Linked DNA regions of Homo sapiens: region 2 is linked to region 1. Evidence: fine-mapped expression QTL. A gene starts in region 1. The other region holds a variant in brackets. All regions are shown on one strand. Distances are from middle to middle.

The links.
Region 2: its variant is fine-mapped to the expression of CLN6 in whole blood (TOPMed, PIP above 0.99).

What each region holds. Positions count from the first base shown.
Region 1 is chr15:68,228,276-68,230,775 of GRCh38, reverse strand. CLN6 (CLN6 transmembrane ER protein) reads left to right here and starts at 1,048. Exons shown (of 7, transcript NM_017882.3): 1 at 1,048-1,274. The coding sequence starts at 1,192. RefSeq lists enhancers at 304-353, 1,584-1,663, 1,694-1,763 and silencers at 1,005-1,184, 954-1,543.
Region 2 is chr15:68,204,688-68,207,689 of GRCh38, reverse strand. It overlaps CALML4 (calmodulin like 4), which reads left to right and starts at 2,358. Exons shown (of 5, transcript NM_033429.3): 1 at 2,358-2,445; 2 at 2,539-2,569. The coding sequence starts at 2,443. It overlaps CLN6 (CLN6 transmembrane ER protein), which reads left to right. Exons shown (of 7, transcript NM_017882.3): 7 at 1-698. RefSeq lists an enhancer at 1,365-1,659. The variant G/T (reference allele first, on the strand shown) is at 1,578.

The sequences.
Region 1 (2,500 bases):
GTAACCTTTCTGTGGAGGGAAACCTCAGGTCTCGAGACGGGCTATTGTAAATAACTTAGTCCACCAGTGCTGGGCTCTCTGCTAAGAGTTTCATATAGTCATCACAACTCCAATGTAGTAGATGCAATAGGCATCTTCTTGTTACAGATGAGTAAACTGAAGCTGTGAGGGGTTGAGCCATTTGCCCGCATCACAGCTAGTTCAAAGTGGTACCACTAATGAAGTCCTGGCAATCTGCCCTGCAGGCTGTTCTCAGGTTTGACCTTTGGTTCTGTTTTTCACTTGAGGATGCTGTCCCCTTAGGTTCTGTCTGTCTTGTATGCTCCGGTGACTCACGAGCCTGTCCACTGGGTTCCCAGGTCTCGCCTCAGCTTCAGACCACCGGTCCAACAGCCTTCCTGACCCACCTCAAGCTTAATGCGTTCAAAGATGAATCTTTATTTACACGAAATCTGCTCTAGCCCACTTCCCGGGGGGTGCCTCCACTATCCACCCAGGGGCAGAATCCGGCCACTGCCTGAACTCTTCTCCCCTCACCCCCCACATCCAGAGTCCCAGTCACCATACCTCTCACACGACTCTAGATGTCACCAACTCGCTCCTTCCCACTGTCACCGCCAGCCCCTCACTAGAACATCTGCAACCCACGTGCTGCACCACGCGGGTGCTACACGTGCAGGTCTCCAGTCCTGCCTCCTCTCCTCCACCCGTAAGAACAAGGGAAATCCCACAGAACCCTCTGCCCCGGGGAGCATTTAAATCAGCTTAGTCTATCTCCAGGTCGCTACCCCGCCCCAGCCCAACACCCAGGCCTCAGTCACCCTAGACAGAGATTCCCGTACCCAGGCAGGCAAGGGACCCTAACACATCCCAGCCCGCTGGTGGTCACGCGCGCAGCCCGGACAGGCCAGCAGCCCCCGCCCCGCGAGGACGCCACACTCGCAGCGCCCGGCCCTCCCCTAGCGGAGCCCGCCCCGTCTCCCTCCGCCCCGCCTCCCTCCGCTCCGCTCCGCTCCGCTCCGCCCCGCCCCGGGTCCGCAGCCCCGCCTGTTCCTCCCGAGGGCCGCGCGCTCTCGCCGGCCCGCCCCGAACCGCCCCGCGCTGGGAATTTGCGGCGGCCTCCGCCGGGGCAGCCGAGCTGAACCGGTCTCTTCCTCGGAAAGGCAGGGCCGAGGGGCCTGCGGGGCAGCCATGGAGGCGACGCGGAGGCGGCAGCACCTGGGAGCGACGGGCGGCCCAGGCGCGCAGCTGGGCGCCTCCTTCCTGCAGGCCAGGTGGGCGCGCGCCGGGGTGAGAGGGCGGGCTAGGCGCCTGTGCGCTGGGGCCTCGGGACCCGCCACGTGACGCTCCTAGGGCTGCCGGGCGGGAACCTCGTGTGCGGCGCTGGCCGGGGCGGAGCGGAGCGCGGGGGGCTTGGAGGCGCGCTACCGTGGCGGCGGTGCCCCCGCGTTTCCTTCTCTGTCTGGGGAGCCTGGGGCCCAGCGGGGCTCGGCCTCCCCGCTTCGCCGTTGCTCGGGTGGGAGGAGCGCCCGCCCGAAGTTTGGGGTTTTCCTCCCTTCCCGCGTTCCAGCGACCCGGGCTGGCGCCGGGACAGCCGCTGCGCTGGGAGAGCTCCCCAGGGCGGTGGGTACACACACCTCGTCACTCGGACCCCCAACTTATCCGCAAGTTCCGGGCGCCACCTCCGCGTTCTCGGGGTCCCTCCAGCCCTGAGTAGGACTTGATTCTGTCATTTATCAGGAGGCTGTCTGCTTGACCTGGGGCACCCAAGAATGTGCGAATGTAATGGAAGAGACAGCGGGGAAGGGCGGAAGCTGCCGTCCAGAGAATGAATGAGGAGCCCTTCTCAGTTTTTGGTTTATCTCGTTGGGCGAGCAGAGCTCCATTCTACCTTCGTCCCGTTTTACTGACCAGAAACATTCACTGCATTCAGCAGGCATTCTTTAAGCGCCTGTGGTATGCCCAGCGCTGTGCCAGGCAGTAAGGGGGTAGGCAGGGTGAAGGTGGGAGAGGCTTACGGTCCTGTAGGGATCAGGAGAGACAGAGCCCAAGTGGGAGTGAGCGGTCATCTTGGAGGGCTTCATGGAGGAAGTGGCACTTGAGCTGAGTCTCAGAGGACTTGGTAGGGGACCCAGGGAAGACAGGCTGTTCCATCCAGGGAAACAGTGGGGAAGGGCAAGGAGTTTAGTGGTGCTGGAGCTTTCCGGCTGTAAAAGAAAGTGACAGGAGGATGCAGACTGATTGTGAAGGGCCTTTAATTGCAGCAAGTCTAGGACTCGAGTTGAGGACCTAGATTGCAAAACTTAGGGGTAGGCGCACTGCCGTGACCGTGAGTGCCGCCTCAAATGTTGGGCCTTGGAGGCCTTGCTTGTCTCACCCTAGTTCCTGTCCTAGGTGACAGGTTAAGGACACAGTCTTTATCCCATAGGCACTGGGGAGTCGTGAGAAGTTTCTGAGCACTAGCATGCGCAAAGTCCTTGTTAGGAAGTTTTTGGTACGA
Region 2 (3,002 bases), 23 kb after region 1:
CCCTACATTACATAGGTTACGTCAGCCTACTGTGGCTGTTGAGCAAAGCATTTCTCCTTTCTGGGCCTCATTTGCACTAGATGGGCCTGTGGTCCCAAAGTAGGTCAGTAGGTTGGGGTTGCTGACACCCCTTGGGTGCAGCTTTGGGACAGATGAGTGGCTCTGTCCTGTCACTGCCCTCTCCCTGCCTGGGGGCTATGTGCACTCCAGACCCCTGCCCAGGCTCAGGCCCATGAGGTATGGAGACACCCTGGCCCCCAGGAGCTGGAGGCACCGCCCACTCCCCTGGCATTCCAGCTTTGCAGGTGACCCTCCTCTACCCAAAGCTCTGTCCCCCTGCTCCCACTCCAGAAGAACTGCGGCACGCGCTTCGGGCAGCCTAGCCACAGGCTTTGAGCGCCTGCATTCCTGGGGGCTGGAGGGTGGGGTGCCAAAGGCCCTGAGCAAAAGCCAGAGCTCCTCTCATCAAAGCCTTTACAAGGTGCTGGGCCCAGAGGCTTTGCCTTGACAGAGTGGCCCAGGGTTTCAAGGGAGGAGGAACCTCCCCCTACCTAGGACCCTTCCTGTGGGGGGTCTACAGAGTCAGGGACAGAAGGGAAGGGACCCACAGGAAGTCACAGTGGTGCCCAGGGATGTGTCAGCCCCCAGCCACGGGGACGCGGGATTCAAGAATGAAGTAAATACAGTCACAGCCCCAAGTGGTGTTAGAGGTGTTTTTTGTCTTTTCTCCCTTTCGTGCTGAGGTGTAGCACACACGGTGCGCCCTACAGCATGGTGAGTTGCTGTATCGTGAACCCTCACGCAGCCATTGCCCCACGCTGGTGTTTTCCATCTGTGCGTCACCCCCGGAGACACCTACACACATAAGGAGGGAGTTGGCCGGGGCACCCCAGCACACACTGGCCTAACTCCAAGGAGGCACCTCATCTCTTCTGGAGCCCCTTCCCACAGGCAAGGGGATTCAGAGGGAGCATGTTGGCCTGGCCGCCTTCAGGCTTCCAGAGTCCCAAGTGACTTTCCTTGATGTCCTTCTCTCCATCCTCTGCACAGAGGCAGCCTTCCCTCCTCTTATCCCTGCCATGGGGTTTGGGAGGGGGAGCCTCAAACTCTGACAGGGAGGAGTCGGAGTCCCCAGCTAAAATTCTCTGGGTCTAGAAACAGGTGTAAAGCGATTCTGGGGATGTGATTTGGGAGAAAAGCACACTTTCCACACAGAGGCGGTCAGGAAAGGAGCGGGGAGGGGAGAGTGGGGCACAGGCAGCGCCTCCCGTCTATGCGCCTGTGTGCAAAGTGGCACAATGCCCCCCTTCCTATTGGCAGTGCAGCCCCTGGCCAGCAACCACTCGCACCTGGGCTGGGGGCCTTTGTGTAGGGCACACCTGTGCAGCCACACCTACTTGTAGAGCCTCATAGACTCAGCTGTGGACAAAAGCCTCACGCCCCAAACAGGGAAATGGGATCTCAAGGGGAAGAAGCTGGGGAGGCCTCACACCCTGCCCCCATTTCCTCCTATGTGGGGGAGGGGAGCAGCACGAACTCCTGAAGACTTGGGAGCGTCAGCAGCTTCTGCGGAAGGG[G/T]TGGGGCTGAGGGTGGAGAGAGGAAGGGAAGGAAGAAAAGGGGAGCCTTCCTGGCCAGGGTAACCGGCACTAAGAGGCCTCACTCCAAGCCCCCGAGGAGCCTGTGGTGGGGCTGGAGACCCGGCTCAGGCCCCTCCACCACCCTTAAAGTCCTCAGAAGGTGGGAACTGAACTGGCACAGGATGGGAACCGGCTGTGCGCTGGCCACTTGATTTTGCCAGCTGCCCTGTAATTCAGCTGGTGAGGAAACTGAGGCACAGACTGAGGTAGAATGATTCGCCAGTCACTCAGCAAGTCAGCAGACGGGGAGGACTGAATCCCAGCCTGAGAGCACCGAAGCTTGTATCCCTGCAATACCGAGCCCCAAGCCTGCGAGCCCCGGTGCCCATCTCTGAGTTAGGCCGTCTTGGAAGGGTTCCCTTCCTCCTACAAGATGGTGTGTGAGGAGCCTTCAATACGACCCGGGGTGTAAAGTGTCCAACTCTAGTAGGGGCCTGATGGCATCCCCGCCGAGTCCCAGGAGAGAGAGAGAAGACCCCTTCCTGGAGTCCAGGGCTCCCGGGAAGAAACACTGGCATTTGTCCCTTTGCTTCGGCTTCTGGAGGCAGAGACTCTGAGCCCAGGGAGAGCCTTCTGCAGCCCCATTTCCTCAAAAATCCAACCTGCCCAGGTGGCGGGTCATGAGCTGTGCTCAGGAAGCTGGAATCTGACCCTGGTGGCGTCGGGCCCAGTCTCCATGGCAGCCGAGCATTTATTACCCGGGCCTCCACCCAGCTTGGCAGACTTTAGACTTGAGGCTGGAGGAAAGGGAACTGAACGCGGTTCTGGGAGCAGCAAGCCCACGGGTAGCAGCCGAGGCCCCAGAATGGTGAGTGTGAGGGTCTGTGTCGGCCTGGCCAGGGCTGGGGGCGTGAACCTCAGGTGGAGCCCTCCCCTGACTGTTTTCCTTTCTCTGCTGCAGGCCAAGTTTCTTTCCCAAGACCAAATTAATGGTAGGTTGGGTTTGTTCTTTGATTAGCAACTCAGCAAAATATGGGTCTCATTAGGCAATTTGCTCTGCTCATGTTTTCTTGGTGGGAAGGAAGGTGGCTGTGGGAGAGCTGGGCCCACCCAGGGCCAAGAGCTGCGGGGAGGCTGCTGTTGGCGGGGTGGGGGTTGGGGGTAAGCCTCCAAAATAGACATGTGGCTTTATACTTGTCAGTGTGACTTACAAGCCAGGGCGCTAAGACAGAACTTACTAGGTTTCCCTCCAGAACCTGACCAGTTGGATTTGGGGACTGAGGGGACTGGGGATGGAGAGAGAGACCATTAAAGGTATGGCTGGCAGCAGGGAAAGAGGAGGGGCTTTGTAATTGAGACAGAACAGAGGCCAGGTCTGCACTCTCTGGCAGGATGCGTCTACTCTCTGCGCCTCAGTCTCCCTAT